7 linked regions of the Homo sapiens genome follow. The protein of the gene in region 1 interacts with the protein of each later gene in a pairwise test. Each region holds a gene or a part of one and is shown in the gene's direction. Other genes may lie near its edges.

The links.
Region 2: the proteins of TADA2A (region 1) and ARNT2 interact in a two-hybrid assay, tested with the Homo sapiens proteins (one large-scale study listed by BioGRID and IntAct).
Region 3: the proteins of TADA2A (region 1) and RNF6 interact in a two-hybrid assay, tested with the Homo sapiens proteins (one large-scale study listed by BioGRID and IntAct).
Region 4: the proteins of TADA2A (region 1) and MTX2 interact in binary tests that used the Homo sapiens proteins (3 or more experiments, as listed by UniProt).
Region 5: the proteins of TADA2A (region 1) and PAXIP1 interact in a two-hybrid assay, tested with the Homo sapiens proteins (one large-scale study listed by BioGRID).
Region 6: the proteins of TADA2A (region 1) and THOC1 interact in binary tests that used the Homo sapiens proteins (3 or more experiments, as listed by UniProt).
Region 7: the proteins of TADA2A (region 1) and KLC4 interact in binary tests that used the Homo sapiens proteins (3 or more experiments, as listed by UniProt).

The regions. Positions count from the first base shown.
Region 1 is NC_000017.11:37,465,886-37,469,385, forward strand, and holds part of TADA2A (transcriptional adapter 2-alpha), read left to right. Parts: intron 1-1,568; coding exon 1,569-1,640; intron 1,641-3,500. UniProt on the Homo sapiens protein: Component of the ATAC complex, a complex with histone acetyltransferase activity on histones H3 and H4. Required for the function of some acidic activation domains, which activate transcription from a distant site. Binds double-stranded DNA.
Region 2 is NC_000015.10:80,407,382-80,410,881, forward strand, and holds part of ARNT2 (aryl hydrocarbon receptor nuclear translocator 2), read left to right. Parts: intron 1-3,500. UniProt on the Homo sapiens protein: Transcription factor that plays a role in the development of the hypothalamo-pituitary axis, postnatal brain growth, and visual and renal function. Specifically recognizes the xenobiotic response element (XRE).
Region 3 is NC_000013.11:26,212,315-26,215,814, reverse strand, and holds the end of RNF6 (E3 ubiquitin-protein ligase RNF6), read left to right. Parts: intron 1-222; coding exon 223-1,991; 3' UTR 1,992-3,040; downstream 3,041-3,500. UniProt on the Homo sapiens protein: E3 ubiquitin-protein ligase mediating 'Lys-48'-linked polyubiquitination of LIMK1 and its subsequent targeting to the proteasome for degradation. Negatively regulates axonal outgrowth through regulation of the LIMK1 turnover.
Region 4 is NC_000002.12:176,335,442-176,338,525, forward strand, and holds the end of MTX2 (metaxin-2), read left to right. Parts: intron 1-2,051; coding exon 2,052-2,223; 3' UTR 2,224-2,584; downstream 2,585-3,084. UniProt on the Homo sapiens protein: Involved in transport of proteins into the mitochondrion.
Region 5 is NC_000007.14:154,975,625-154,979,124, reverse strand, and holds part of PAXIP1 (PAX-interacting protein 1), read left to right. Parts: intron 1-2,793; coding exon 2,794-3,429; intron 3,430-3,500.
Region 6 is NC_000018.10:216,048-219,547, reverse strand, and holds part of THOC1 (THO complex subunit 1), read left to right. Parts: intron 1-578; coding exon 579-662; intron 663-2,914; coding exon 2,915-3,062; intron 3,063-3,500. UniProt on the Homo sapiens protein: Component of the THO subcomplex of the TREX complex which is thought to couple mRNA transcription, processing and nuclear export, and which specifically associates with spliced mRNA and not with unspliced pre-mRNA.
Region 7 is NC_000006.12:43,069,631-43,072,611, forward strand, and holds part of KLC4 (kinesin light chain 4), read left to right. Parts: intron 1-723; coding exon 724-825; intron 826-1,061; coding exon 1,062-1,235; intron 1,236-1,644; coding exon 1,645-1,744; intron 1,745-1,936; coding exon 1,937-1,989; intron 1,990-2,221; coding exon 2,222-2,292; intron 2,293-2,516; coding exon 2,517-2,625; intron 2,626-2,981.

The DNA.
Region 1 (3,500 bases):
GTCTGGTTTCATCTTTACCACTCACTCTTCCCTCCTGCCCTCAACTGGATTATTCTGAAGCAAATCCCAGACATCATTTTATTTTGTTCATAAATATTTTAGTATTAAAAGTAGTTTTAAAAATGAGGACAGAGATGGATAGCTTGTGGAGATAGTACTTCCATCGATCTCTTGCCTTTCTGTGGTATTTCTGTGAGAGCTCTACATAGTTACCATTTGATTTTTCACTATAAAAAATTAAAAGTTGTTATGAGGCCGGGCGTGGTGGCTCACACCTGTAATCCCAGCACTTTGGGAGGCCAAGGCAAGAGGATTGCTTGAGTCGAGGAGTTCGAGACCAATCTGGGCAACATAGTAAAACTCCATCTCTACAAAAATACAAAAGTTAGCCAGGCATGGTAGTGCACACCTGTAGTCTCAGCTACTTTGGAGGCTGAGGTGGGAGGATTGCTTGAACCCGGGTAGCCGAGGTTGCGGTGAGCTGAGATCACACCACTGCACTCCAGCCTGAGCGACAGAGTGAGACCCTGTTTCAAAACAAAATATGTTGGTATGGCAGTAAGGCCTAGATTGTTAAAATAATATGGACTCTGGCTTGTTCTGTACCTTTCATCATGACATTTGTGTATGTGGCTTCTAAGTTTAGTTCTGGGAAGGTAGTCTACTAAGGCCCTTATTCTCACCGTGAAAATATTTCTTACATAGCATTGCAGACATTTATCTGAGCCAGGTTGGTTGTCCTCACCAAACACCTTGTTTGGTTAGCATTCTTTGTGTGGTTTGTACCAGGTGACTGATCCTTTACTTCCTGTCCCAGTTTGGGACACACCCCTGGTTTATGTGTCATTCCAAAACACTACACCCCATGGATTGTCCAGGCTCTTCCTTCATTCTCTGTTTCAAAAGCAGCCAAATTAGAATGATTTGTAGAACTTTTAATAGAAGATAGTTAGAGCAGGGAAACTTGGTTGTTAAAAAAATTATATTTTGCCCAGTGCGGTGGCTCATTCCTATAATGCCAGCTACTTTGGAAGGCCGAGGCGGGTGGATCACCTGAGGTCAGGAATTCGAGACCAACCTGGCCATCATGGCAGAACCCCATCTCTACTAAAAATACAAAAATTAGCCGGGTGTGGTGGTAGATGCCTGTAATCCCAGCTACTCAGGACGCTGAGGCAGGGGGAATTGCTTGAACCCGGGAGGTGGAGGTTGCAGTGAGCCGAGATCATGCCATTGCAGCCTGGGCGACAGAGCGAGACTCTGTCTCAAAAAAAGAAAAAAAAAATTGTTACTTTTGTAGACAAATGAATTTAACCATTTCACTAAGTTTTCTAGAAGACAGTTCCAGCTGCTGCATCTGGAGACAGCAGCTGGAAGATAGCTGGAGTAGGTTTTCCTCAGCTCTTGGGTAAAATTTCTAATGAGAAGTTACCAACGAGTAGGATTCTCCAAATGAACTTCCCTAGTCTTATAAGGCAGAATTAATGAAAATGCTCAATAGCAAAAGTGCTCACTAATGTTGCTTTTGTTTTTGTAATTTTTTCCTTCATTCCTTTTGGGGAAAACAGTGGAATTTGAACTCCGAAGGGAAATCAAGAGGCTCCAAGAATACAGGACAGCAGGCATTACCAATTTTTGTAGTAAGTATGCTTCAGCTACATACCGTACTTGAGGGCAAGTATCTTCCAGACACACAGAGGAAGTCTCTGAATTGTTGTGAATTTTTTTTTAAAAAACAAGCTTTCCTTTACCAGAATGCTTTAAACCTTTCCAGTAAAGTTTTGGCTATTTAATCCCTATAAATACCTTTGTATAGATTATCTTTGGTACTACAAAAGTTGTGAGACAAAGGAAAGAGAGGTGCTGCTTTAGATTTAGGATTCTGCCGAGGCTCTTTAAAAAAAGGGAATCTTGGGCCGGGTGCAGTGGCTCACACCTGTAATCCCAGCACTTTGGGAGGCCAAGGCAGGTGGGTCACTTCAGTCCAGGAGTTCGAGACCAGCCTGACCAACATGGTGAAACCCTACCTCTACTAAAAATAAAAAAACTAGCCAGGCGTTGTGGTGCACACGTTTAATCCCAACTACTCGGGAGGCTGAGGCACAAGAATCGCTTGAACCTGAGAAGCAGTTGTTGTAGTGAGCCAAGATGGTGCCACTGTACTCCAGCCTGGGTGGCAGAGGGAGATTCTGTTTCAAAAAAAAAAAAAAGGAATTTTATATTTTAGGTGTGTCACCCTTTTCAAATTTAATGATACATGGTCTTAGCATTTTTATAAAATAATGAAGCTTCAACTGGCTCCAGGTGCTTGCATCCCAGTTACTTGGGGTAGTGACAATAATTATATTATTAGCAGCTAACATCTATCAGATATTTACCATGTACCAGTCTCTATGCTAACCATTTCACTTGGATCAAGTCAATGAATTCTCATGACAAACTTATAAAGTACCGTTACTTCCATTTAGTGAAGAAATTAAGGTATAAAGAGGTTACAGAGCTAGTTAGTACTAGAACCAGGTCATAAGAGATAGTGTATTATAGTAGTTAAGAGCTTGGGTCTAGACTTAAAAAGCTTGAGTATAAATTTTGGCTCTCCAGCTTGCCAGCTCTGTGATGTGATTCTATCCAAATTTATTTTTCTTTCCTTTTTTTTTTTTCCCTAGAGACTGACTCTTGCTATGTTGCCCAGGCTGGTCTCAAACTCCTGGCCTCAAGCAGTCCTCCCGCCTAGGCCTCTCAGAGTGCTGGGATTACAGGTGTGAGCAACTGTGCCTGGCCTCTATTCAAGTTTTAATTTTCTAAGGTTCTTAGAGTTAGTGTAAAGATTTAATTAGAGATACTGCATATAAGCATAGCACAGTATCTGGCACACAATAATTCCTCAATAAATGGCAGTTTCTGTTGTTTTGCTGTCATTGTTGAAATGATCTTTAGCATTCCCTCCTTCTTCCTATTTGAAGTTTTTGTGATTATTGATAGTTGTCACCTACTATCTATAAGAAATAGTTGGCTTCTTTTTTTTTTTTATTTGAGACGGAGTCTGGCTCTGTTGCGCAGGCTGGAGTTCAGTGGTGCCATCTTGGTTCACCACAACCTCTGCCTTCTAGGTTCAAGCGAGTCTCCTGCCTCAGCCTCCTGAGTAGCTGGGACTACAGTCATGCACCACCATACCCGGCTAATTTTTTTTTTTGTATTTTTAGTAGAGATGGGGTTTATCCATGTTGGTCAGGCTGATCTCGAACTCCTGACCTCAGGTGATCCACCCACCTCAGCCTCCCAAAGCGCTGGGATTACAGGTGTGAGCCACCACGCCCGGCAATAGTTGGCTTCTTAACACAGCCCTGTGGGTGCAACATAGCCTTATGGATGTAAGTTCAGCCTAGTATAATGGCTCTTTAACAGTGGAAACCATTTTTGAAATTAAATTTTGTGTGAGCCCCAATCTACAAATAAGATAAAAGTGGGCTGGGCACGGTGGCTCACACCTGTAATCCCAG
Region 2 (3,500 bases), on another chromosome or scaffold:
TGGATATAATACAGGTCCAAATTTGGAATCTGCTCCTTCAAGGTCCCCTGTTGGGGTTTTAGGTTAGGATTCTACCAGCTACTCTGGGAGAGGAGAAGAAAGGATTGGGCTCCCAGATATTCTCCTCATGACTTCTGCTATGACAGTCCTGGTTATATTCCTCATATCCTGTGGCCCCTGGTGCCTCCTCCTTCTGGGTCATTTACAGTCCTTACGTTGGTCACTGAAACTGTTGTATTGGCTGATTTTCTCTTTTCTCTCTGGCCAGGAATGACATATATCCTTTAGACTAGAGAGTGAAGTCATAGAATCTTCCGTTTTGTGTGTCTGTGTGTGTGTGTGTGTGTGTTGTTTTGCTGCCTTTTTGAATGACATTTAAGTGTTTCTGATGTATAGGAAATAGTGAAGATTTGAATTAGTTATATACATAAAAGGGTATTTGCAGCTGAAATGGCACAATTAAGAAGGAGATTGTTTCCCCAATGTCATTGTTCCATCTTAATCTTTTGTAATTTAAGCATGAGGGAATCAGCTACAAATTCAGACCAGTAATCATTAGGAATTAAGCATTATGTGGACATTCTCTGAGATGAGTATTTGCAGAGTAATTAATAAGGCTCATATGTTTTAAAGGATTTCAAAATTATGTTTTAAGAGATTTGGAATTCCACTTTTTTTTCTGAAATCAATTATTGGATTTTTTCCCCACTTCCAGGTTTCTGGTCTTTGGCATTTCAATTTGGAATTAATTGTATAGTGCAGGAAGATTCTCTGGACAAATTGCCTTAGATGGAGGGACATTTGAATCAGCTTGTTGAACTGATTGGATATCTTTGATATGCCAAGCTGTCTGCAGGGAATAGAGCAATGTGGAGATGAGGGAGAATATTTCTTGACCTCAGGGGGTTCTAAGTCTACTAGGGGAGGCATAGGTAGACTAACTTAATAACACCAGGTGGAATGAAATGAACGTTGACTAGGCATGTTCATATCATCATGGGGAGCCAGAGGAAGTCTTATGGGAGGTAACTTCTGAACGTGGGCCTTTTGAAGACAGAGATTTTGACTTATAGAGAATTTAGGAATGGTCATTTTGCGCTGATGGCTGGCGTGTGAGGCAGACAAGATTTGTGAAAATATGGAATACTGTCAAGTGGTTGCTTCCTCAGTGCTCTTGGGGACTCAGCAGGACACCCAAGAATGTGGGTAGGTTTTGAGCCTTTGAGACGTGTGCGCTATGCTTGCAAGCTGTCCTGCCTTGAGTAGGGCTGGAACAGCCAAACCAGCTGGACATACAGTTGAGCCCAATTTCTCTATATCCTGTCCTTCATTGAATCTACGAGCCCATCAGTTGCAGGACACATCATTCTTTTATGGACTTATAAGAAAAAAATGAGCTGATGGCATTTTGGCTTTCATCAAAAGAAAGAAAAAAAGGAAGAAGTGATACCTGAAAAAAGAGATTTATTTATTCCTTCAGTATATATTTATTTTAATTAATTAATGAATTTTAAAAAGTTAATTTTTAAAGGCTCCTTTTTTAGGGCAGTTTTAGGTTCACAGCAAAATTGAAAGGAAGGCACAGAGATTCCTCATATATCCCCTGCCCCCACACATGCACAACCTCCCCCATGATCAACATTCCCCAGCAGAGTAGTACATGTGTTACAATTGATGAACCTACAATGACACATCATTATCACCCAAAGTCCATAGTTCACATTAGGATTCACTCTTGATGGTTGGTAGACGTTCTATGGGTTGGACAAATGTATATGACTTATATCTACCGTTATAATATCATGCAGAGTATTTTCACTGCCCTAAAAATTCTCCATGCTCCACCTATTCATTCCTCCCACTTCCGAATTCTTGGCATCCACTGATGTTTTTACTGTCTCCATAGTTTTGCCTTTTCCAGAAAGTCATGTAATTGGATTCATGCATTACGTAGCCTTTTCAAACTGGCATTTTTCACTTAATAATATGCATTTACATTTTCTCTGTATCTTTCAGTGGCTTGATAGCTCATTTGTTTTGGTGCCGAAGAATATTCCATTGTCTGGATGTACCACAGTTTATTTATTCATTCACCTACTGAAGGACATCTGGGTTGCTTCTAAGTTTTGGCAATTATGACGAATGAAGCTGCTAGGGGCTAATACTTACTGAGTAACTACTATGTGCCGGGGACTGATCTTGGTTCTGGGATCACTGTGGTGAGCAAATTAGGTATAACTCCTACCATCATGCTGCTTGCTAGCAAGACAAATAGTCACAAAAGAGTAACACAATTGGGTTAGTTATGAAAAGTGTAAATGTTATGAAGAAATGATCCCCTGAGATAAAATAACCAAGGGACCTAAATTAGAGGATTAGCAAAGGCCATTTGAAGTCAGTGAAAGCCTCTCTGAGGAGTTGACCCTTGAGTCAAGCTCCAAGGAATGATGAGAAATGTGAGGAAGAGCATTCCAGGCACAAGGAAGAGCCCCTTCAAAGGCCCTGAGTTGGGAAGAGCTGGAGAACAGGGAGCAAGGGTGAAAGCGGTGTGAGAAGCTGGAGCTGCGGTAGAGGCCAGCTCACGGGGGACCACTTTTGGGTTAGGGACTGAGACTTCATTTTTAAAAAGCGCTGGAAATCTACTGAAGGGGGTTTGAGCAAGGGGCATGATCTGACCTGCACTTTTAAATGCTGCTTCTGGCTGCTGTGTGGAGAGCCAATTGGACTGAAGCGGGAGGAAAAGTAAGACTCCAGTTAGATGGTGCTAACTTAGGTCAGGGGCTGTCAGTAGAGAATGAGAGAGAGGGAGGTGGATTTGAGTTATACTGGGGGCAGGGATGCCATGCTGAACAACTCCAGGGGCACCAGTTACTTCCCTGTCCATCCCTTGGGCACGACATGTCCTGCTTGGGGCAGAATCATCATGACTTCATTGTAAGGAGTTAGGGGAAGAGTCAAGGACGATTCCCAGCTTTCTGTCCAACACCTGGGTGGTTGGAGGTGACAGGAAGTTAGTGAGAGGCAGGGGGCCTGTGGGGTGTGCTCCAGGCTTCAGTATTGGACAGCTGAGTTGAGCTGCTTGTGCGACAAGCAAGTGGAACTGTCATGGAGGCAGTGGGACACATGCTCCCAGAGATCTGGGCTGGAGAAGGAAACAAAGAGGGATGTTGGCCAGCCATTTACCAGGTTCTCTAAATGCTTTCCTTGGGGTAAGTTAGTTCACAGAACATAGAGCTTTTGGTCCAAGTACCATAGTTCCCAAACAATGCTTGCATTTACTGCTTTATTGTCTGTCTTTATTGAGATTCACTAAGACACAAGGTCATAGGGAGATTATTTCTGCATCTTTTCCAGATCCAGCAATCCATTCATTTTTATCTATCTATCTATCTATCTATCTATCTATCTATCTATCTATCTATCTATCTATCATCTATCTACCTACCTATCATCTGTCTACCATCTCTCTCTCTCTCTCTCTTTCTCTTTCCCTCCTTTTG
Region 3 (3,500 bases), on another chromosome or scaffold:
TTTAAAGCTTTGTAACTATGTAAATAGTAATTTAATTTTTATAATATGCTTATAGTAGATATACTTTTCTTTTAGAAAGTTGTCTTTTTGCCATCTTTCATTCATTAAAATCCACAGATGTTCTTTAATTTATTACAAACTTTGTTTTTCTTACAAGTTTTCAATAAAGCTGTAAGGTGTGTCTTAGGAATTGATCTTAAGTTGATTTGCTTTGCTTTCTAGACTCAGAAGTCCCTAGAGAAAGTTCACATGAAGATTCTCTTCTAGAATGGTTGAACACCTTTCGGCGCACAGGAAATGCAACTCGAAGTGGACAAAATGGGAACCAAACTTGGAGAGCTGTGAGTCGAACAAACCCGAACAATGGAGAGTTTCGGTTTAGTTTGGAAATCCACGTAAATCATGAAAATAGAGGATTTGAAATTCATGGAGAAGATTATACAGACATTCCACTTTCAGATAGTAACAGAGATCATACTGCAAATAGGCAACAAAGGTCAACTAGTCCTGTGGCTAGGCGAACAAGAAGCCAAACCTCAGTGAATTTCAATGGTAGTAGTTCCAACATTCCAAGGACTAGGCTTGCTTCAAGGGGGCAAAATCCAGCTGAAGGATCTTTCTCAACATTGGGAAGGTTAAGAAATGGAATTGGGGGAGCAGCTGGCATTCCTCGAGCTAACGCTTCACGCACTAATTTCAGTAGTCACACAAACCAATCAGGTGGTAGTGAACTCAGGCAAAGGGAGGGGCAACGGTTTGGAGCAGCACATGTTTGGGAAAATGGGGCTAGAAGTAATGTTACAGTGAGGAATACAAACCAAAGATTAGAGCCAATAAGATTACGATCTACTTCCAATAGTCGAAGCCGTTCACCAATTCAGAGACAGAGTGGCACTGTTTATCATAATTCCCAAAGGGAAAGTAGACCAGTACAGCAAACCACTAGAAGATCTGTTAGGAGGAGAGGTAGAACTCGAGTCTTTTTAGAGCAAGATAGAGAACGAGAACGCAGAGGTACTGCATATACCCCATTCTCTAATTCAAGGCTTGTGTCAAGAATAACAGTAGAAGAAGGAGAAGAATCCAGCAGATCCTCAACTGCTGTACGACGACATCCAACAATCACACTGGACCTTCAAGTGAGAAGGATCCGTCCTGGAGAAAATAGAGATCGGGATAGTATTGCAAATAGAACTCGATCCAGAGTAGGGCTAGCAGAAAATACAGTCACTATTGAAAGCAATAGTGGGGGCTTTCGCCGAACCATTTCTCGTTTAGAGCGGTCAGGTATTCGAACCTATGTTAGTACCATAACAGTTCCTCTTCGTAGGATTTCTGAGAATGAGCTTGTTGAGCCATCATCAGTGGCTCTTCGGTCAATTTTAAGGCAGATCATGACTGGGTTTGGAGAACTGAGTTCTCTAATGGAGGCCGATTCTGAGTCAGAACTTCAAAGAAATGGCCAGCATTTACCAGACATGCACTCAGAACTGAGTAACTTAGGTACAGATAACAACAGGAGCCAGCACAGGGAAGGTTCCTCTCAAGACAGGCAGGCCCAAGGAGACAGCACTGAAATGCATGGTGAAAACGAGACCACCCAGCCTCATACTCGAAACAGTGACAGTAGGGGTGGCAGGCAGTTGCGAAATCCAAACAATTTAGTTGAAACTGGAACACTACCCATTCTTCGCCTTGCTCACTTTTTTTTACTAAATGAAAGTGATGATGATGATCGAATACGTGGTTTAACCAAAGAGCAGATTGACAATCTTTCCACCAGGCACTATGAGCATAACAGTATTGATAGTGAACTAGGTAAAATCTGTAGTGTTTGTATTAGTGACTATGTAACTGGAAACAAGCTCAGGCAATTACCTTGCATGCATGAATTTCACATTCATTGTATTGACCGATGGCTCTCAGAGAATTGCACTTGTCCGATCTGTCGGCAGCCTGTTTTAGGGTCTAACATAGCAAACAATGGGTAAGGTGATGGGATCTACTCAAATACTGTTTTTTAGTAGAACTGAATGTTCAAGCATTGTTTTGCTGAGTTATTTGTGATTAGCTAACCAGGATGAAAAATAACAGATTATATATAGTTTGAACTATTTTTCGTGTGCTTTTTTAAACTTGTTAAAAAGAAATTTATATAAAATTTAAAATACAAATGTTAAATTATCCAGAAATACAGAATAGTTAATATTGCTAGAACCAAATAACCTCTAAAATGTTTTTATTTTGGTAATTTTGTCATGCTAAGCACTTTTGTATCTGCACAATTCAGTAGGTTAAGAATCAATCTTCTTTTTCTTAATAGTACAGCAGACTTTAGCTTCAAGTTTCATAGGCTTAGTACTTATATCTAGACATTTGTGTCTAAATAAGCTTTTCATTAACTTTTTATTTTAAGGACAGTATCTTTTCATGAAAGAGTATTTGGCTGAATGTTTGCTATATATATGTTACTTGAAATGTTAAATTTAATATGCAGCATACCATAGGTGTATATATAGGTATATAATTTTAAGGTTAAAATATTCAGTCTACAAGTTTGGTTCTTATTTAAGCTTTTGGGCTAATACTGCATATGGCACAATGTTTAATATTGGCAAGTTCATCTCAGAGAAAGGGGATTCAGATATAATTTTAAAGTAGAGATAATTTACTGAAGCGTCTCTGACAATCTAACTTATTAGACAGCAAGCAATATATAATACTGAAAAAGTATTCAGAAATGGAAAATTTACATCATATAGGTTATTTAACTTGTGTTCAGCCTTTTTGTAACTTTTTTGAAAGTGCAAACAATTCTTTGGATTATTAAATAAGGTATACAGTATGCATGGTTTCTCAAATTTAGTTTTAAAATCTAAAAGTCTATAAAGAATCAGATGCATAGGCAATATGTTAAGTTCACTTGGAGGCTAAAAATCTCCAGTGAAAACAAAACGAAAACCTTTAAGAGAATGTAGAGTTTATATAAACACAAAGTATGCATTGAAGATCTGTTTCTACCAATAAACATTAAAACAAAGACTGTATGTGAACTATGTTTTTCTGTTGTTCCACTGTGGTTTATTCACCCTCCACTAATATTTCATACTAGATGCCAGGCAGTGTTATGGGATAGAGTATTTCCCAGACGACAGACAAAAGTCCCTGGCTTCATGGAAAAGACATATTTGCTCTTAGAAACTGAATATCAATTGATAAAGTGAATTATTATTCTTACTTTCATATTTGCTTATTAATATATGACAGGATTTTCTTGTGGTGATACTGTTTGGGCAAAATCACAAGAACAGTACTTAGGCCAGATTCTGTGAGATTTAGAAATATCTCCACATTTAATTTTCCTTTCTGACTGGTGACTATGTTCAATTCATTAGGTTAGATGCATGCCCAGGAATGTTAAGGAGTGCATTTACATGGAGTAAAAGGTTTTCATAAAAGTTGTGACTTTGTTTGGAGTAAATTATTTATGTAGGTCAGTT
Region 4 (3,084 bases), on another chromosome or scaffold:
TGGAGTTGGTATGATCTGCTGACATTAGTCATTCTGACCATGGTATGGAGAATGAGTAGAAGCAGTAAGACACTTTAGGAGGCTATCTCAGTGGTCTAGGTGACAGATGATGGTAGGTTACACTGTGAAATCATAATGAAGAATAAGTGGTGGCATTCAGGGCATATTTTGGAGGTAGTGTCTCACCAGACTTGCTAATGGATATAGGAGGGTGAAAGAAAGAACTCAAGAGTAGCCCCTAAATTTTTGGCCTGAACAGCTGGTTGGATAGTGGTGCCTTTTATTTTGGGAAGTTTGGGGGACAAGCAGGTTTGGGATACTGTAAATTACTGCTATTGAGAAAATAAAGTATCCCACACATCTTAGTCAAGATGCTCCACATCCTGCTCCACAGATACTCCACATTGAAGTGGAGATGTTATGTAGGCATTTGAATGTATGAATCCAGAGCTCAGGGGAGACATTAGGACCAGAGATAAATATTTAGGAGTCAGTGGCATCAAGATGGTATTTAAAGCCATGCATCTCTAGGAGACTACTTATCAATAGGGTTCAAGGCCACATAGCTAGTAAGTGATAGTATTGGAGTTCAAATTTGGATTTTTACCAACCCCCAAATTTATTCTGCCAAACCAGATTACTGCAACATATTTTCACATTTATGTAGGCTAGCACATATTTTCTCAAAAACTTTATCACTGTGGGACACAGTAATAATTAGCTCGTAATTATGATGACATTTTCTTGTTTTAGTAATAGTGCATTAGTAATTATTTTAATATAATGTAAATTGGTGATGCCCCATTTATAGATCATTAGTAGTGGGGTAGATTTCATTTTGTTGTTAGTAATATATAATTACAGAGAAAAAAATTCCTAGAAATTTTTATGTTGAAGCCATCCTTATGATTTTGTCTCCTTCAGAAATCTAAGTTACTTTAAATGTGGTAAAATTAAAGTTGTGTCTTGTTGTTGATTTGTGATTGGGTATCATTTTTTTGGTCCTATCACCACAGCGAAATCCTTTGTGCTTTGACAGCATTTTGTTTATGCATCTATTAAAACACTTAATAAATTGTATTTATTAAAACAACTTTATAATTTATGTTTCATGTACATGTCTTAGAGTATTTTTCTTGTTTTTATGTCTAGCATTTGGTATGGTTTCTGGCACATTGGAGATCTGCTATATTTAGTGAGAAAAGTAATGAATTAAATGAATATGATCATTACATCTATATTATTTTAACACACCTAAATGTTGTTACTAAAGAAAGCAAGTCACACAACTAGCAAATCATATTTTTTTTCCATATAGCAGAAACTCCAAGAAAAGTTATATCAAGTTGTGGTAGGATTTGTTTCTTACGTGGCTTTTTTCTTTTAAGTTGATGAATAAAATGATTTTAAAAAACATATCCACGGGGGTCTTTCAAGTATCCACAGGACATTTGTTCCGGGACCCCCACAGATACTAAAATCTGCAGAGTTCAAGTCTCTTATATAAAATGGCATAATTGCTTACGTAAACTTAATGTATTGAGAAAGAAAGAAAAAATGGTGCAGTGTTTGCATGTAATCTATGTACATCCGTATATTTTAAATCATCTTTGGATTACTTATAGTACCCAATACACACAATCTAAATGATATGCAGTAGTGTGATCTCAGCTCACTGCAACCTCCACCTCCCGGGCTTAAGCCATTCTACCACCTCAGCCTCCCGTGTAGCTAGGACTATAGCCAAGCACCACCATGCCTGGCTAATTTTTGTATTTTTTGTAGAGATGAGGTTTTGCCACATTGTTCAGGCTGGTTGTGAATTCCTGAGTTCAAACAGTCCGCCCACCTCAGCCTCCCAAAGTGCTGGGATTACAGGCATGAGCCACCATGCTTGGCCTATATTGTTATTTCTAATCTTTTAAAATATTTTGGATCTGAGGTTAGTTGAACCTACGAGTATGGGACCTGTGGGTGAAGAGGGCCAACTGTGTTTTCTATTGTAAAAGTTAAATGCTACTTACTCACATTACTCTCATTTCTACTTTTAGGCCTACTGAACTTGACGCACTGGTATTTGGCCATCTATACACCATTCTTACCACACAATTGACAAATGATGAACTTTCTGAGAAGGTGAAAAACTATAGCAACCTCCTTGCTTTCTGTAGGAGAATTGAACAGCACTATTTTGAAGATCGTGGTAAAGGCAGGCTGTCATAGAGTTATGTGTTAGTCTCAGGAGTCTTAACTTTTGAAATATGTTTTACTTGAATGTTACATTAGATATTGGTGTCAGAATTTTAAAACCAAATTACTGCTTTTTGAAACCTCAAATTATATAATGTATCTTATGTATGTGCTTTATATTGTTATTTGTGTATACATTAAAATAATTCTGAATTATTTAATCTGATATGTTGTATTCTGTATCTTGAAATTTTTGTTTCCTTGAAACATGCATGCATTTAAAAATAAAGCTTAAACAACTGTATGGATGTTACATTTACTTTCTTTTGATTTTTCTGAAAGTCATTCACTGAATTTTACACATGTGGAATAAACAGTGTCTTTTCTAAGGCAAGTAATTTGTGTTACATACTCCCAAGATTCCCTTGCTAGTTACATGGTGAAGCAGATAATGGGAATAAACGTTCTTAACAAGTGTGCACTTAGAAAATATGGATGGTTTTAAGGTAATTAAATTTTGGTGCAGATTTGACATTTAAGAACATTCTTTATATAGAGACTTAATTAAAAAACATTTCATCAGAGCAGCTGTGATTTACATTTGATAAAGGAAAAGTTTGAGGAACCTTTTTTTTTGAGACAAGAACATTTTAATAATGCTCTTTTATTCCTTTGTGGGGAAGGGAAGATAGTTTTCACAAAAGTATTAACAGGAATTTTTATGTAAACACTAAGGATTATATGTTGTGTCCTTTCCAAATTTTCTCATAGTTTATATCTTATAAAACCAGGGATGCTCTGAAGAGACAGACGTAAAAAATGATTTCTTAAAAATGTCTAGAATAATAGTACTTTTATATTTTCTTTTTATGTACCAGGGAATTTTAACTTATT
Region 5 (3,500 bases), on another chromosome or scaffold:
AGGCAAAGGCATCTAAACATTGCTTTCCTCTTAAATCATCTTTGTTTAAACAGTTACTGTCTTTCAGTGATTAAAAACTACCTATCTTGTGAAAAGCGAGAGAAAACTTGAGTGAAATATAGTAAGGCTGTTTACCTAAGTGTTTTACTTAGATTTCCACAGGAAATAGTCAAGTTATTTCTGAAATGTGAAATGCCAGCATTCTATACAAACTAGGAACTCAAGAGCCTACTGGATCCCAGCCTTTTAAGTGTGAAATTATCTTTTTCATATCCAAAATTTTCAGTGACTCCTCTTCATGGCAGTAGTTTTGTTTTGTTTTTTGGTATTTGTTAAAACAATTAAAAATAACTTTTTTTCATATTTTACTATTTCAACAGATATCTTTTTAACTTGGAAAAATCATATGTAAACCATATTACATATAGTCATATGTTATTCAAGCAGATGATATTTTTGTATTAATTGGTTCATAAATATTCTGCTGTGTACCTGGACTTCATATTTTCCTAAAATAACTTGGGTTTTTCTGGAATGGGTAGTCCAGAAATTGAAAATCTCTAGTAGAAATTTATCATCTGGGGAGAGCTATATAACATTTTATGCTTTTAAATATTTAAGAACAGCATGATTTTTTAGGGTAAAGAATAAGACATTTTATTGTCGAGGGTATAGGTAAATTGATGTACTCTTACATAGCTGTTGGAAGTGTAATTGGAATAGCCTTTTTGGGAAGGGAAGTGTAGTTAGAGATATGAAGCCTTAAATCTATTCCTTTTCAAACCTCAACACCAAAACCTAGGAATTTGTCATAAAATATAACTGCAGTTTTTCATAGTAGTGAAACACTGGAAACAACCACGTGGCTAACACTGGGGGATGAACTAAGGTACACAGCTGTGCAACCGAAGAGGAAACTGTAAAAGCCTTTGAGACTACTGGGGAGATCTGAATAGGGCCTGAGGATGAGGTGAATCATAGTTCATTGTGCTGCTATGATAATTATGGTGGTTTAGAAAGTCTTTATCAATTTGAGATCCGTAAACAAAGTTCAGGAGAAGCAAGATTTGTAAAAGATTGCCAGTTATTAAAGCTGGGTGACAGATACAAGGGATTTATTCCACTAGTCTCTAATTTGGTCTGCGTTCGAAAATGTACATTAAAAAGTTTGGTCTGCGTTCGAAAATGTACATTAAAAAGTTTGGTCTGTGTTCGAAAATGTACATTAAAAAGTTAAAAACAAAAGCATAAAAGTATACATGTTTTCATAGGAAGAGGTTGTTCACAATATATTAAGTGAAAAAGGAACATTATAAAGTATTTGTTCACTATGACTATATGTTTTTTCCCTTTGCCCTTTTAATATATGTACATATATATTTATAACAAAAATAAATTTAAACTATACCCTAAAAATGTTAATCGTGGTCCTTTCTAGTCAGTGTGATTATGATTACATTCATTTTCCTTTGCTTAGCTTCTTATTCATGGGTGTCTCCCATGACTAGGTTTTTCTTATATTTTAAAAAGGTTTGAGAAAGAACAAACTCACAAACACAAGTTAAGTCACTGAGCTGTGTGCAGAGCTCACTATTTGCAAGGATCTCCCAGATGGGCAATGCCTGGCGTTCGCTGCCAGGACCGAATGACCAACAGCTGTCCTCTCTGTGCTGCTGCCCCGCATCCCTATTGCGTGTGACTCTTATTCCACCCAGAAATTGCAAATGCCACCTTGGGGCTCTGCAACAGGACACGGAGTTTAGTTTAGGGCCCTGATTATGTGTTTGCTAGAGAATTGCTGTTATGTGTTAAGCTTTTAGGAGCACAGCCAAATTTACAACTCATTTATTTTAAGGTTACTTTATTGTCATATTACTCTTATTTAACATTTTTTATTTATTTCCTCTTTCTTTGTTATTCCCTCCCCTGTGCCTTCCACATTCTACACCCTTTACCACAGGAGAGGTCTCTGTTAGCTTGCCGAACATACTACTCCGGACACATCTTTTCCAGTGGGCTGTATTTTCTGCTTTCATTCTAACTGTGCAAATTGTCATCATTTGTGCCCCAGCCAAAGCTCACCTTTCAACGGGGCTTTCCTCCTGCCCTCCAGCTTATGTTGATGAGATTCCCTTCCAGTCTGTTACTGCATCATTCAGCAGTGGTTTTATATTGTATTTGCATTCCGTATTTAATATCTCTTTAGAACCAAATTGTGAGCCTTGTTAGGTCAGAGACTTGTTGCATCCTTTGTGTCTCCATCCCTTAGTGCTGCTTGGCATATAGCATGAGCTCCATAAATACTGGATCTTGAATAGAGCTGTCCTATGCAAGTCAGCCAAGTCAGCCATGCTCCATGAGTGTACGTGATGCATTGGCGGCACTCTGCCACGCTGTTACTTTACTAACTGTCATGGAAAACCAAGCTTCTAAATATTATCAATCAGTAAAAACTTAGGTAGCAATTATTCATTTCATAATTTTCCATAGGATTACTAGCTCTACTTTTGTACTTAAAATATCATTTTAAAAAGTTAATTTTCAGCCAAGTCTTTTAAGACTCCTGCTACAGGTGTGAGACCTTCCTATGATCACTGCTGTATGGTTCCTTTTCACTTTTGCCTCATGTCCTCTGTCTAAAAGATCAAACGTTGCTTCTGTATAAAATTGTAATAATAGTTGCTCAACATTTCAACTGCATTCCTTGACTGAGTTTTTTCTAAAATGCGTAATTGTAGGAAATGTGATAAAATTTACAGCTTTGTTTTGTGTGTGTTTCTGCTTTCCTCGTAGGAGAAATACGAATGTGCTTTAAAGCGAGCAAGTATTAAAATTGTGACTCCTGACTGGGTTCTGGATTGCGTATCAGAGAAAACCAAAAAGGACGAAGCATTTTATCATCCTCGTCTGATTATTTATGAAGAGGAAGAAGAGGAAGAGGAAGAGGAGGAGGAAGTAGAAAATGAGGAACAAGATTCTCAGAATGAGGGTAGTACAGATGAGAAGTCAAGCCCTGCCAGCTCTCAAGAAGGGTCTCCTTCAGGTGACCAGCAGTTTTCACCTAAATCCAACACTGAAAAATCTAAAGGGGAATTAATGTTTGATGATTCTTCAGATTCATCACCGGAAAAACAGGAGAGAAATTTAAACTGGACCCCGGCCGAAGTCCCACAGTTAGCTGCAGCAAAACGCAGGCTGCCTCAGGGAAAGGAGCCTGGGTTGATTAACTTGTGTGCCAATGTCCCACCCGTCCCAGGTAACATTTTGCCCCCTGAGGTCCGGGGTAATTTAATGGCTGCTGGACAAAACCTCCAAAGTTCTGAAAGATCAGAAATGATAGCTACCTGGAGTCCAGCTGTACGGACACTGAGGAATATTACTAATAATGCTGACATTCAGCAGATGAACCGGCCATCAAATGTAGCACATGTAAGTCACTCTTTCCGAAAAAAATGTCAGTATTGGATCTTAGAATTGGATTTCACAGTCTATTTCAATGT
Region 6 (3,500 bases), on another chromosome or scaffold:
CTAAAAGTATGGGGCCATTAGAATCTTGTCCTGCCACCACTTTATGAGTATTTATTATTAAGAGTATATGCCATCCTCACTGGTTATTTTGTACCGCTCAGGGAACACATGCCCACAATCTTGTCCTGCCACCACTTTATGAGTATTTATTATTAAGAGTATATGCCATCCTCACTGGTTATTTTGTACCGCTCAGGGAACACATGCCCACAATCTTGTCCTGCCACCACTTTATGAGTATTTATTATTAAGAGTATATGCCATCCTCACTGGTTATTTTGTACCGCTCAGGGAACACATGCCCACAATCTTGTCCTGCCACCACTTTATGAGTATTTATTATTAAGAGTATATGCCATCCTCACTGGTTATTTTGTACCGCTCAGGGAACACATGCCCACAATCTTGTCCTGCCACCACTTTATGAGTATTTATTATTAAGAGTATATGCCATCCTCACTGGTTATTTTTGTACTGCTCAGGGAACACATGCCCACAATCTTGTCCTGCCACCACTTCATGAGTATTTATTATTAAGAATATATGCCATCCTCACTGGTTATTTTTGTACCGCTCAGGGAACACATGCCCACTTTGGAGGAATTCTTTGAAGAAGCCATTGAACAGGCAGACCCTGAAAATATGGTGGAAAATGAATATAAGTAAGTATGCTCCTCATTAGCTCCTTTTAATTTTCTTCAATTTGTTTCTTCCTTAGGAATTGTGTGTATACTAGAAAGCCTCTTAAGAGAGGCAGTAGATAGAATAGTGCTTTTTCTCTTAGGTGAGTTTATGTTCCAAGTTCTTGTTAGTACACATCCTGATTTCAAGGATTATTCCTGTTAACTAAGCATGACTTGGAATCACCCTTGTTTCAAAATATAAGAAAAAAAAAACTCCCCCTGATCCCCATTTCTCTCCAACTATTAGTTCTGTTCTCTCTACCCTTCAAAGCACAGTATCTCACAGCAGCTGTTAACCTATCCTGTTCCCCTTAATGTTTTCTTCTCTTGGCGTCCATGAGAATCCAAATCCATGGTTCTTCTGTTTGCCCTTTGCCCTCGTTGCCCACTCCACCTCACATTCCATTTCAGCCTCCTCATCCTCTGCCTAACTCAAATTTTGGAGTAACATCAGGAATTGGTCTTAGCCTCTTTATCTAGAACCTTCTGGGTGACACCGCAGTCTCATGGCTTTAAATAGGAATTGAAGAGTAGTGGTTTAAAGGCAAGAGGCCTCTGGTCAGAATGCATAGGTTCGATTCCCTCTACCACTTACTTACTAGGCAACTAAGGCTAATTTAATTATTAAACCGCCAGTTCCCTTTCCTCATCTGTTAAATAGTAACAGTACCCATTTCACAGGGTTATTCTGAGGATTAAATAAGACAGTGCACTTTGAACCCTACAGGGCATGTGGTTAGCACTCAGTATTTGTGACTAGTGTGACCCTGTGACCAGAGTTGTTAATTACTGTGACCTCTTAACTAATCTCTCTAGTTGTGGTCAGTGCTCCATGCATCAGCCAGTGATCTTTAAAATAATTGTCCAAGTCTAATCTGCTTAAAATCTCCCAGTGAGTGCCTATTCCAAACTCCTTCCCAGGGCCTAAAAGACCTCCTTGGTCTGGCTCATACTCTCCTGTGTGGCCATGCCTCCCCTCTGCTTTAACCACAGCAGGCCTCTTGGTCCTGTCTTTCCCTTTCCTGTCAGGACCTTCACACTTTACTGTCTCACTTGCTTGAACCACTTTTTCCCCAAGGTTGCCGTGGCTTAAAGTCCCCCTGGCTGGGAAGCTCTTCCCCTCCCTGGTCTCCTCTTTTGCATTCTCGTGGTTTTTATTTCACGGCACTTACCACTATCCAAATGAGAAGGTGGCACTTACCACTTTCTCATTTCTCAAGTTTTCCTCATCCTTATGAAATTGTCTTATACCTTGTGTGTTTATCACTAGCAATGCCTGCCTTACTGTGCCTCAGGTACTCTCCACAGCTACTGAGTGCCTGGCTCAAAAGTGTTTGTCGATTGAAAGAATATTAATTTATCACTGTTACATAAGACTAGGTGGACTCATTCCTAAAGTGATAGTTCAAATTATTATCTCCAAAGAGGGTTTTGTGGAGAATAAGAAAAATGATGTGTATAATTGACAGTGAATTTTGAAAATGCCTAAAATAATCAAATTGTCTAAACAGATATGTCAGAGAGGAAGGCTCTTAACTGTTTAGGCAAAGCCTCACAGCAGGTGTTAACTTGGGAAGAGTCCCCAGTGTCTATGGGTAGTTTTTGTTAAGTCTTCAGTGGTACCTGCACATCCTAAAGGTAACATATGCTTATTTATAAGAGGTGACCAAATAAACCAAATTGCTATTCTTAGGGGAGGAAGAGACTTCCAATCCAAAACTCTTAAATGGAATAAATTTGTGGTTTGGTTTCTTCCGCAGCATTGCATATTTCTGACGCATTATCTTTAGAATTTCTCTGCAGTTTGTTTCTCACCTGATGGTATACCACCCTGATCATTGTTATACTTCATTAGGGAACAGTTCATGGATTCCAAATAGCTAGATGGATGATTCCTGTTGTATACGTACTGCATCCAGCCAGTACTGCACACACTTGTTGACTTGTTAAAATTAAACAAAATGAACGGAAACTTTGAAAATGTGTTTGCTGCATATGAGCCTGCCTCTTCAGGCATTGTTGGTTCCTGTGATTAGTTACATGTGCATCTATTGGTTTGTTATTATCAGTGGACTACATACTGAAAAGTTCTTTAGGAATAAGATTCAAATACAAAGAATGGCACTTTGAGCTATTTACCTTAAATACAGAATTACACATGGCAGAACTGAGCAGAAGGGAATACAGAAATACAAAGCTATAAATTACAAGCCTGACACCTCTTTTTATAGGGCTGTGAACAATTCAAATTATGGTTGGAGAGCCCTGAGACTATTAGCACGGAGAAGCCCTCACTTCTTCCAGCCAACCAACCAGCAGTTTAAAAGTTTACCAGAATATCTTGAAAATATGGTAATAAAGCTAGCCAAGGAATTACCGGTAAGTACCATAGATCAACTTTTCATACCCTTTAGTTGACATCTTCTTTAAAATTGCTGTCACTATGTGAGCAAAAAACTGACTTAATCATGTGAAAAACCAGTGATCCACAAGCTCCCATGTTTTAGAATGAGGGAAAAACACATTGGAATATACATTTACAGGAAATACATGAGTTGATAAAGAAGTAACTGATAATTTTCTGTACAGCATGTAATTTAAAGTTCAACAGGGCTGTGGGTGCGGTGGCTCACGACTGTAATCCCAGCACTTTGGGAGGCCGAGGCGGGTGGATCATGAGGTCAAGAGATTGAGACCATCCTGGCCAATATGGTGAAACCCCGTCTCTACTAAAATATAAAAAATTAGCCAGGTGTGGTGGCACGTGCCTGTAGTCCCAGCTACTCAAGAGGCTGAGGCAAGGGAATTGCTTGAACC
Region 7 (2,981 bases), on another chromosome or scaffold:
ACCTCCACCTCCCGGGTTCAAGCAATTCTCCTGCCTCAGCCTCCCGAGTAGCTGGGATTACAGACATGCCACTACGCCTGGCTAATTTTGTACTTTTAGTAGAGACGGGGTTTCTCCATGTTGGTCAGGCTGGTCTCGAACTCCTGACCTCAGGTGATCCGCCCACCTCGGCCTCCCAAAGTGCTGGGATTACAGGCGTGAGCCACTGCGTCCAGCCAAAAAGCTATTTTTGAATGTGATCTGTGTGAAAATAATTCCCTATGGTATGACATATGATAGGCAGGGATGATGTATCTCAGAAATCATACTCCTGTCTTGATATCCCATCAAATATCAATGTTTACATTTAGCGTTTGGATGTCTGGCAGGACATTAAAAAATTGGCAGAGCTGTCCCACACATGCAGAACATCTATAGCGTTCTTGCCTCCTCAAAGGTAATCTTCATGGTGACAACAACAACAACAAAAAAAAAAAAAAAAGAAAGAAAAAAAACACCTCCAGAAATTTCTTAAAATCCCCTAGAGGGCGATACTGTCCCTTAGCCTCAGAGCCATCCTGTTCAGCAATTTCCCCTCCCTTCAGCCCCTGGCTCCAGGGTAGTAGACTTTGTCTCTTAGAGTTGTGCAGTGAGTGTTGGGCCCTGCTGGGAGGTGGGGAACCTCAGATTCCCATAGGTCTTTTGCAACCCAAATGTCTGATGGGGACAGGCCTGTCTTCATAGGTGGCTGCCACACTCAACAATTTGGCTGTGCTCTATGGCAAAAGGGGCAAGTACAAGGAGGCAGAGCCTCTGTGCCAGCGGGCACTGGAGATTCGAGAAAAGGTACCCATGCCCTCTCTCCCTTCTTCTCTTGTCGCTGTGACCCTTCTCTACATGGCTCCTCTGGTCTAACCCTCCTCCTTCACTTTTTTTTTCTCACCCCCATCTCTGCTTTGTTCTCTCTTCCTTCATTCCCTTTCCTCTGCTTTCCACATGTGTGTGCCTACATGCAAACACACGTGTGCTTGTGCACACACATGTTATCATAGCCATTTATCCACTCCTTTGTTCCCTTTCAGGTCCTGGGCACGAATCATCCAGATGTGGCAAAACAGCTGAACAACCTGGCCCTCTTGTGCCAAAACCAGGGCAAGTATGAGGCCGTGGAACGCTACTACCAGCGAGCACTGGCCATCTACGAGGGGCAGCTGGGGCCGGACAACCCTAATGTAGCCCGGACCAAGAACAACCTGGTATGGGAGGAGGGACAAAGTAGGTGGAAGAAACGGAGAGGGGGGCACAGAGGTGGGGGGAGGGGGGGCAGGCGGAGAGGCCACTTGGGTCCTAGAGTCAGGAAGCATCACAGTCTGGCACACTGCTCTCATCAACTTTGTGCTCATGTCTGGGGCTGCCTTTGCGGATGAAGGATCTGCTTCATTCCAGTTATAGAAGTTCCACAGCTTCTTGGGAGTGGGCTGGGAATACCCTTGACCCTACACCTGGAGAAGGAGGTGTGAGAAAGATCTCTGGGGAAAGTGAGAGAGACACTGAGAAGTGGAACTCCCTGAGCCTGGTGAAGACCTTGTCTAAAAAAAAAAAAAAAAAAAAGACCTTGCCTCCCTCCATGTTTTGTTCCTGTATTTTTGCCTTTCTGTCCTCCAGGCTTCCTGTTACCTGAAACAGGGCAAATATGCTGAGGCTGAGACACTATACAAAGAGATCCTGACCCGTGCCCATGTACAGGAGTTTGGGTCTGTGGATGGTGAGTGGTGAGGGCCTGGGGAAGGGGCTGTGGGGAAGAAAAGAAATTCAGACCAAAGGTCGGGGGTTAGGCCACAGCGGTTCCCAGGGGGAGCCAGACCCCTTCAGTCCAGCCTGTCAGCCTCTGGGTCCTGGCTCTCCGACACTGTCTAGCTCCCATCTCTAACCTCCCCACCCCATGTATCACCCCTAGATGACCACAAGCCCATCTGGATGCATGCAGAGGAGCGGGAGGAAATGAGCAAAGTGAGTGGGGGGAAGGGGGGCCAGCCTGGGGAGCTCAAGGCTACCGGGGTCTCTGTCTTACTCCTTGCATTAGCCCAACTCTCACTTCCCATCCCAGCACCAGCCCCAGATGCATGGTGTCCTCCCCAGCCCAGCCTGCACCCTAGCCCCATGCCACCTTGCATCTCAGCATCTCTGTATTCTTATATTTGGCTCTCCCTGCCCTTCTTTCTGGCCTCTCTCTGTCCTGCAGAGCCGGCACCATGAGGGTGGGACACCCTATGCTGAGTATGGAGGCTGGTACAAGGCCTGCAAAGTGAGCAGGTGAGCTGACAGTGAAAAGCCAGCTTGGCCTCCGATGCCCTCCATCCAGTCCCTGCTCCCAGCCTCCCAGACCTTTTCCCTTCCTCCCGTAGACTTTCCCTCAGCTTTAGCTCTGTTCCCTCTCCTATTTTCTTATTTTTTTTCCTCTTGTCTTGCTTGGAAGACAAATGTTTTGTTTTCTGAACTCATTCTCTCTTCCTTCTCTGGTCTCTTTCTCACCACAGCCCCACAGTGAACACTACTCTGAGAAACCTGGGAGCTCTGTATAGGCGCCAGGGAAAGCTGGAGGCTGCTGAGACCCTGGAGGAATGTGCCCTGCGGTCCCGGAGACAGGTCAGAAGCCCAGAGGGGAAGGAGGTCCTAGAGGGAAGGGCCCTGGGGATGAGAGAGTGCCGAGGTTTCTTGGGAGTCTCCTAAGAATAAGCGGAAAGGCTGATGAAGCCAGGAGGGAGAGGAAAGTGAGGCAGTGTTGTGATTGTGGTTGTTTTTAAGCATGTTCTTACCCCCCACCTGCATTTTGTGGTCAGGACTCTAGTTTCAAGATTCACTAAATGGGGATATGAAGGAGAAACCCTGCCCTTTCATAAGGAGGGGACCTGGGTGGTATGGGTGAGAGGAGTGAGGTTGGGGAGAGCCTAAATCAAGAATTTCTTAGATTGTGGGTCTCAATAGTAGGTTGTGAAATCAAT